Regions from separate parts of the Homo sapiens genome. Here regions 1 and 3 are each linked to region 2. The links come from fine-mapping of genetic effects on gene expression. A gene starts in region 2. Each other region holds a variant in brackets. All regions are shown on one strand. Distances are from middle to middle.

Region 1 (2,803 bases), 32 kb after region 2:
TGGGTTACGGTATGTTCTGGGGACGTGTCTGCTTGCCCATGGTTACTCATGAACTGAGGGGATAGCTTGGCAACTTGGTTAATCATCTTGGGAAAGAAAAACAGACTTCATATCGCCTGACTTGATTGGCCTTTTATAGGAGTATACTGGAGAAATGGTTGTAGAAACAGTATTTACAGCAAAAGGAAACAAATAATGTTCATTTTAAGCAATGTACCATTCACACTGTCCTGCCTTTTCCTCTAGAATTTTATTAATGGTAGAAATTTTTATATGAAATGGGACCAGGACCAGGCTAATATTTTCAGTCCTTAAATATCAAACTCATATGCTGTTATCACTGTGATTTTACTTGTGAAATCATTCCTGTAATGTTTATTGTTTGAAAATGAAATATTGAAATTAGGCTTCCAGAGTAACACTGTCCCCGGAAAAGGATATGAGAAGTGGTGGATGTTGGATGGGGGTGGTTGCACAGTCCTGTGCGGTTCCCATGGCTTTCCAGCGTTTCATTTAGTGAAGGAATGCTCACACTAGATGTAGCACAGCTTCCTGTGGGGCCCGGCAGCAAAGCCCCAGGTGCTCCCTGTCACCTCACAACAAAATGCACTAAGAAACGTAAAGAATAAGAGGAATTAATACCCACCATTAAAGGATGTCCGGCCAACCTATTGTGGAAATTTATAGAATAGTATACACCACAGTTCTGAATAGTGATATCACATAAAAATACATACTAGAGGACCTGCCACGCCATGAGCAGTGTTTTTGCTTTTTGGGGGCCAGTCCCTGGGGTGTGGAGCCGCTAGGGTTTGCACCCATGAAACAGAGAAAAGCCACACCCTCCAAGGTGTGGCTTTCATTTTGGGACTGCTGCAGGGAGGGCAGAGGCATTGCTGAGACTGCCTGGCAACGGCTGATGCCCCAGGTAGGACCTTTTCCAATTCAAAGTGGTGTTCTAAGTCTGCGTCCAACACTGTGTAGGAAAAAGGTTGGTGCAAAAATATTCCTGGTCATCCACCCATTAAAATAGTTAGATGAGGCTATTGCCTTGATGACAGCTGTCCACACTCCTCATGAAATTAACCCGTATGCCGGGGCATTTCCAAATGTCTGACTCGTGAAATTAACCCATACGCAGGGGCCTTTCCAAATGTCTGAAAAGGCAGTGGTGTCTTTTGGGGAAAATGTTATGCATGGAAGCCTGACCTTTTGCTTAGTTGACAGCAATCCCTTCTGTATTGCCAATCAAGGTTCATTTGAGATGCAGAGGAATGAGCTTGAGCCTTCCTCCTTTTCCTTCCGGTTTTATTCTTCCTCTTGGGAACATCCCTCCACTCCGCACTGCTTCCTGCAGCTTTGTAGAGCTGGATTTGGAACTTCGGGATTTGGTTTCTGAGTCTGTGGAGGCACCGACTTCTGCTGTAAGAAAATGAATGTTGTGGAAATTCTTTGGCTACTTAACTAAAACTCGTGACTGTATAAGTTTGGCTACAAATAAGTAAGAAATTAATCATCTGCTCTGTTTCTGCTAATTTCTGGTGTCACTTCAGTAATTCTGGTAGCAGCCGTTGAATCTGTCAGTCTCTTAGGTAACTTCCTGTAAA[C/G]GATTTGGAAATAGGATGTTTTCAACGTTCTTTTGTCTTTTGCTGAAGTCAGGATAGATTCAAGACATAATCTCTTGTAAGATCTAAATAGAGCAAATGTAAACAAAAGTGCATTTTTGTATTCTTGTTAATTTTAGATGCTTTCCTAGCTTACAAAAAGTTCTGTTTTTGGGTTAAAAATCAATCAACTTTCTGATATTTCCCCTTCTGCAATGTTATTGTTCATAAGAAAACACGAGCTGAAAATGGAAATCTGCAGTTGTTTCAGTTGTCTTGAATTTCTTTCAGTGGCCACATCATTTCCACGTTTTCCACATCCGGGAGGAAGCCTGGACTGTGCAGCCTTCGGGCACCCGGCACAGACACTGTGCTGGCAGGAGCTTCAGACACGCCAAGTGGATGGATTTGGATTGAACGCATATGAAACAGGAGACGGGTTCTCATGTGAGATCAAAGCTCCTCCAAAGCCTGTTCAAGCTCTAAGCGATTCTCAAATGTTACCATTTATTAAAGGTAAACTACACCTGTTGAAGGCCAAGTTCAGGGCAGCTGTTGTGATCTGTGTAGTTAATGTATTTATTAATGCTTGACTTTTAAAATCCTGGGCATAAATAGTGCAGAGCCTCGTATGTTTGTCAGTTCATGCCGAGATGAAATAAATCACGCAGAAAGTGCCAGTCCTCCTGATGTGCCCCGAGTGCTTTTCTCTTTCTCCACAGCGAGCGTCAGATGCGGCTTTTTCTCCTGTGAATCAGGGAGCGTAGCTCTGCCTGCGGGACCCAGGGTTGACACGTCCTGCCCGTTAAGTGAGGAACTGCCCTCACCGGCTCCTGAAGCTCCCCTGGCACAGAGGTTCTAAGTTGGGGTGTCTGTTCCCACTCCCAGGTGCCCTGGATTCCTCGGTCTGCTCACGGGTCCCAGCGGGGGATCACGGCACACCACCTAGGACCTCGGGAACACCAGGATGGGCTGCACAGGAGCAGGTGGAAGCCGAGGCCAGCGCCTAGACTTTGGTTCCTAGGGAAGGCAGGTTGGGGGAGCTGCTTCGCTGCACTGGTTTGTGTCCTTCCAGTGGGCTTTGTGCTATCACGGTGGTCTCCAGTTGCCTGGTACCGGGCCCAGGGGTGATACAGGGCAGGGCTTGTGTGTGAGAGTAGCTGAGGAGGGCTTGGGGGTGTGGACTGCGGCCAGTTGGT
Region 2 (2,803 bases):
AGGCCAAGACAGGTGGATCACTTGAGGTCAGGAGATCGAGACCAGCCTGGCCAATGTACAGTGAAACCCTGTCTCTACTAAAAATACAAAATTTAGCTGGGTGTGGTGGTGCATGCCTGTAGTCACAGCTACTTGGGAGGCTGAGGCAGGAGAATTGCTTGAACCCAGGACGCAGAGATCGCAGTGAGCCGAGATTGCACCACTGCATTCCAGCCTGGGCGACAGAGTGAGACTCCATCTCTAAAAAAAAACAAAAGAGAAAAAGAAGTATTATTCTGCAGCCGAAAGGAAGTAGAGATGCACTAAGAAGATCACAGTAGAGTTTGGAACATTTTTGGAGTAAACTGAACAAAATAAAAACGGAGCAGCATGGGAATTATTTTAGCTTCCACCAAAAGGGTCTGTTTCTGCTATAGTTAACGGAAGTTTTCAATTTTCAAAAAATCCCAGTAGCTCGCTGAGTTTCAGCCTCCTGTAATTCAAGTACTGACAGCAGGTACTACTCTTCTTGGCAACAGAGTGAAAAAGGTTTTAAAGATGTTCCCGGGGCGTTAGCTTTGGTGCTGGAGTTGTAACGGCTCATTATGTGTATACAGCATGGAACTGGCAAAGACTGTCACAAGCAAAAAGAACACAAAAAGAGAAAGTAAAGGCTCTGGCTCTCGGTACTTATGGAAATCTCATCGTCATTAATTTGCACAAAGCCATTAAAAATAGCATTTACCAGCAGGGGTCCAGCGTTAATTAGAACCCAGCCTGGGAGCAGCTGGAACTCTCGGCGCTCCTGGCTCAGTCCTCGCCGCCCTGAACCCGTCTGCACCGCAGGGCCCGAGTGGGAGGCAGAGGCCACATTTCTGGATATGAGCAAAAGCTCCGACATTTCGTCCACTCTCGTGTTGTGAACTTTAAAAAATTCTGGAATCTGTTGAGAATTTGGCAATAAGTTTTTAACCACTAAATATGTCAACAACGCATCGCCTCTACTTTTACCAAAAAATAGGCGCACGAAACTCCGCTGTTTGCGCCCGCGGACACCTGTCCCCGCCTCCTCGCAGGAAGCGGCCCCCGCGCGTGGGCGCGGGCTCGGGCTCGGGCTCGAGTGGCGACGTGGGCCGCGGTCCTGGAGGGGGAGAAGCGCCCGGCGGGCAGGCGCGGGGCAGGGAAGCCCCGGGGAACCCACAGCCCCTCCGCAGACCCAGCCAGGGGGCGCGCGCCCGAAAACGCCCCGTGTGCACGCGCCCGCCCCCCTCCCCGCGCCCCGCGCGCGCCCCTCGCAGCCTGGAGCCGGAGCGCTGGCTCCGCGCGGCCTGGAGAGGCGGAGAGGCCTGTCCACCGCCCCCTCTGCCGCCCACGCCCCGCTGCGGGTCGGAGGAGCAGCTCCCGCTCGCAGGTGCTCGGAGAGGCCGGGCCGCGGCTCCCACAGGTGCCGGGAAGCGGCCGCGCGCATGCGCCGGAGCCCACCCGCCTGGCTGCGCGTCCCGGGCCCGGCGGCTGAAGAGGAGCCGCGGCGAGGTAGGGCGGACCCCGGGGAGGCAGCGGCGGGGCCTGGCGGGCGGAGCGGGAAGCAGCCCGAGGCGCGGGTCGGAGGGGGCGGCGGGTGGGAGGTGGTCGGCGAGAGCGGCAGTAGGCGGGAGGGGAGAAAAGGGGAGGCCGGCAGGGGAGAGGCGGGGAGGGGAGGCCGGCAGGGGAGGGAGGGGAGCGGAGCGGAGGGGAGGGGAGGGGGGACCGGGAGAGGAGGGGGCAGCGCTGCCCGCGGCGGGGTGGGCGGCGGTGGGTGGTCTCCGCTCCGCCTCCGGGAGGCCGCGTGGGGGGCGTGGGGGCCTCCTCGCGGGGTCTCCACAGGCCCTCCCCCGGGACGCGGCAACCCCGGCCGGAAGACAATGAGCCGCCCGCGCCGCGCCCGCAGTCACCGCCCCCGCCGAGGGTCCCGCCGCCCCAGCCGGCACGGAAGCAGGAGCAGAAGCCGAAGCCAAGCGCGCGGGGCCAGGGCGGGGGCTCCTCCCGGGGTTGCTCCGCTTGGCTCTCGGCGGTCGCGGGGATCGGCTGTCCGGAGCGAACGGGGGTCTCTCCTGGACTCGGGGCCCTGGGGAGGGGAGCGCGGCCCTTGGTCCTCCGCCGCTGCGCCCGGGGTGCGGGGGTGTCCTGGCTGCTGACCCCCGCGAGCCCCGAGCACCGCGACCCACCCGCCCCACCGCGCCGCGGCTCCCGAGTCCTGCCGGGCGCCCCTTGCAGCCCCCGCCCCATGTGCTGGGGAGACCCCCGGGCGGTCTGGGCGGGATTCCGCAGGGGTCCCTCCTCTCAGGCGGGGCTCATTCTGGAGCATGAAAAGAGGGTGAACCAAAGTCCCTCCACCTCTTTAGAGTCCTACAAAACCACGTTTCCCCCTCCACCCACTCCAGTGTCTATTCTAAGGAAAAGAAAAGGAACAAATCAGTGCAGCGAGCTTTATTCTACTCAGCCCACGAAAGGCGCCGCCGTCAGATTTTAAAGTTCCAGCCATCCCCTCAGGCCCTGAGTGAGAAGTTCGCCCGATTCCCCGCGGTTCCCGCCTCCATTTCCCACTAAGGAGCAGTTACTCAGGCTCCAATTAGGACCCCTTAATGGATGTCAATGGAACCCTTCAGCCTTTTATCCTGAGCTAATAGTGTGCTATTATTAGAATAATCCTCCCCATTCCTGACATCACGGAAGGGAGCGTTCCATTGCCTTCAGATTTGCTCCAGCAACAACCTCGTGTGTGCAGATTTATGGTAACTGGCATTGCAATGCTCCCATCAGGGCATAACTAAGTAAAAATTGTAAT
Region 3 (2,660 bases), 38 kb after region 2:
ACGCTCCTCACTAATGGTTGTGACTCAGTAGGTAAAACGCTGGCGGTCGCTCACAGTTCATTATTGCAGCTCTGTTTTCTGCTGTCTGTATAGTCTGGGACACGCCACTAAGCCTCATCAACGTTCTTAGTTTCATGTTCCTAAAATCTGAATCAGAGCAGTCCCCAGAGTGCTAATGAGACGGCTGTGTGGAGATAGCCATGGCAGAGTCCAGCCTCTGGGCCCGGAAGAGTCACTGCAGCTACTCCTTAAACACAGGGATTCTGTGTCCTGACATGAGAGATTCTCACGTGCTATATCCCGGATGCAGCCAGAGATGTGCATTTCAACAGGGAATTCAGAGGTGAGTGCTCGCATTGCCACGCTGTTAAAAACGCTATTGTAGGACCTCCCAGCAGGTGGCTGAATCTAAGCACGTTTAGGATCGCTGTCCGTGTGGAGCTCGCCAGGTGGTTGGTGTCCTCCCCACACGCTCTCCTGGCAAAGATACTTGTGGCTATTAACTTGGATCACCCCGAAGAGACTGTGGCTTGTCACAAACCCCATGTAGGATAAAAGAAGGCATTTAGGCATTGAAAACAAACCCTCTTACAGTAAGAGAATCCCAAACAGTTCCCAGGAACTGCAATGTGAACAGCCTGACCAAGCCACGGTGGGCTGAGGAAGCAGAGACTCCGTAGCACCTGAGGACCTCAGCCGCCCATCCTGACAGGTGCAAGTGCGCACCTGTAATCCCAGCTACTCAGGGGGCTGAGGCAGGAGAATCGTTTGAACCTGGGGGGTGGAGGTTGCAGTGAGTTGACATTGCACCACTGCCCTCCAGCCTGGGCTACAGAGTGAGACTCTGTCTCAAAAAAAAAAAAAATCTGGCTGAAATCTCCTTCTTGTAACTTTGCCTGTCACAAATTTAGCTTTCTAGTTCAAAATGTACTTGAGGTGAGGTCCCTGTGTGAATCACTGTGAGAGGATTTATGACTCCGTAAAGTGGGACACCCACGCTTAAGACGCTTACAGAGAGTGACAGAGGCGATGAGCTCATAGTAAAATAAAGCGGAGGGG[A/G]GTCCAGCCTGCAAGAGCGGCACCGAGTCCTCTAATACTTACTCGCAGCCAGGAGCCCGTAAGGACACAGAGAAGCAAGCCTCTAGCTGCTGGAACAGATGTCCCCAGCTCCAAGAAGCCACACAAACATCCTGTGTTCTCACGTCATCTTTGTTTGTAATCTAAGTATCGTTCTCACATGCACGACTGTCATTTCTAGGCTCACAAAGCAGATGATTAAGAGCAGAAATGCGGTGGCCACAGGGACACAGTAGGTTGTCCCGCGACGAGCCAGTGACAGGAGGAGAGGGAAGGAAAATGGCAGCTGGGGGTCCGGAACGCAGAGCAGTGTTTACTTTCGGCATCCAGTTTTGTGCTTGGTAAAGTCTTAAGGGCGGGAGGTTGATAATAGTATTATGATATTAACTGCAGATCATAAAACATCAAATTCTTTTTAGCATTCTTTGATCATGAGCCAAAGAAGATTTTATTTTTCAGACAAGTTTTAGGCTCACAGCTAAATTTAGAGGAAGGTTCAGAGTTGCCGTAAGTCGCCTGCCCCCAACACATATAGTGTAAACCCCACTGTAAACACCCTTGCCAGAGTGGGGCGTTTTTACATCAATGAACCTACAGCTCATCACCAGCCAGAGTACACAGTTTACATAAGGGCTCACTCTTGGTGTTGTGAGTTCCATGGGGTTGGACAAATGTGTAATGACATGGATCGGCTGCATCATTGCCAGAGCTCAATTGTAAGATCATATCATCTGCAAACAATGAGAATTTGACTTTTTGCATTCCATTGTGGATGTCCTTTATTTCTTTCTCTAGGAAAGGACCTTCAGTAGTATGTTGAATAATAATGGTGAAAGTGGTCATCCTTAGCCAGGTGTGGTGGCTTATGCCTGTAATTCCACCACTTTGGGAGGTCGAAGAGGGTGGATCATTTGAGGTCAGGAGTTTGAGACCAGCCTGGCCAACATGGTGAAACCCCATTTCTATTAAAAATACAAAACTTAGCCAGGCATGGCAGTGGGCAAGCTACTTGGGAGGTTGAGGCAGGAGAATTATTTGAACCTAGGAGGCAGAGGTTGCAGTGAGCTGAGATTGCACCATTGTACTCCAGCCTGGGTAACAGAGTGAGAATCCATCTCAAAAAACCAAAAAAAATTGGGAATCTTTGTCGTGTTCCAGATCTTCAGAGAAAGGCTTTCAGTTTTTCCACATTTATTGTGTTCCGCTTTTATTGTGTTGAGATATTTTCCATCTATACCCAGTTTTTTGAGAGTTGTTATCATGAAGAATGTTGAATTTTATCAAATGCTTTTCAAGCATCAATTGAAATGATCAGATGCTTGTTGCCCTTCATTCTGTTGAATGATATATCACATTGATTGATTTGCCTATCACAAACCATCCTTGCATCCCTGGGATAAATCCCCTTTAGTCATGTTGAATGTCTTTTTAATATATTATTCAATTTGGCTTGCTAGTATTTTGTTGAGGATTTTTGCATCAATGTTCATTGGGGATACTGGCCTGTAGTTTCTTTTTTTTGATGTGTCTTTGTCTGATTTTGGTATCAGGGCAATACTGGCCTTGTAGAATGAGTTTGGAAA

What was found.
Region 1: its variant is fine-mapped to the expression of KBTBD11 in whole blood (TOPMed, PIP above 0.99).
Region 3: its variant is fine-mapped to the expression of KBTBD11 in skeletal muscle (GTEx, PIP above 0.99).

Annotation. Positions count from the first base shown.
Region 1 is chr8:2,004,650-2,007,452 of GRCh38, forward strand. It overlaps KBTBD11 (kelch repeat and BTB domain containing 11), which reads left to right. Exons shown (of 2, transcript NM_014867.3): 2 at 1-2,287. Among named protein-coding and RNA genes, the nearest start is that of KBTBD11, 32 kb to the left of the region's middle. The variant C/G (reference allele first, on the strand shown) is at 1,608.
Region 2 is chr8:1,972,424-1,975,226 of GRCh38, forward strand. KBTBD11 (kelch repeat and BTB domain containing 11) reads left to right here and starts at 1,254. Exons shown (of 2, transcript NM_014867.3): 1 at 1,254-1,512. It overlaps KBTBD11-AS1 (KBTBD11 antisense RNA 1), which reads right to left and starts at 922. Exons shown (of 3, transcript NR_136275.1): 1 at 725-922; 2 at 117-240. The region is part of intron 2 of KBTBD11-OT1 (KBTBD11 overlapping transcript 1); the gene reads left to right.
Region 3 is chr8:2,010,975-2,013,634 of GRCh38, forward strand. No RefSeq gene overlaps it. Among named protein-coding and RNA genes, the nearest start is that of MYOM2, 33 kb to the right of the region's middle. The variant A/G (reference allele first, on the strand shown) is at 1,060.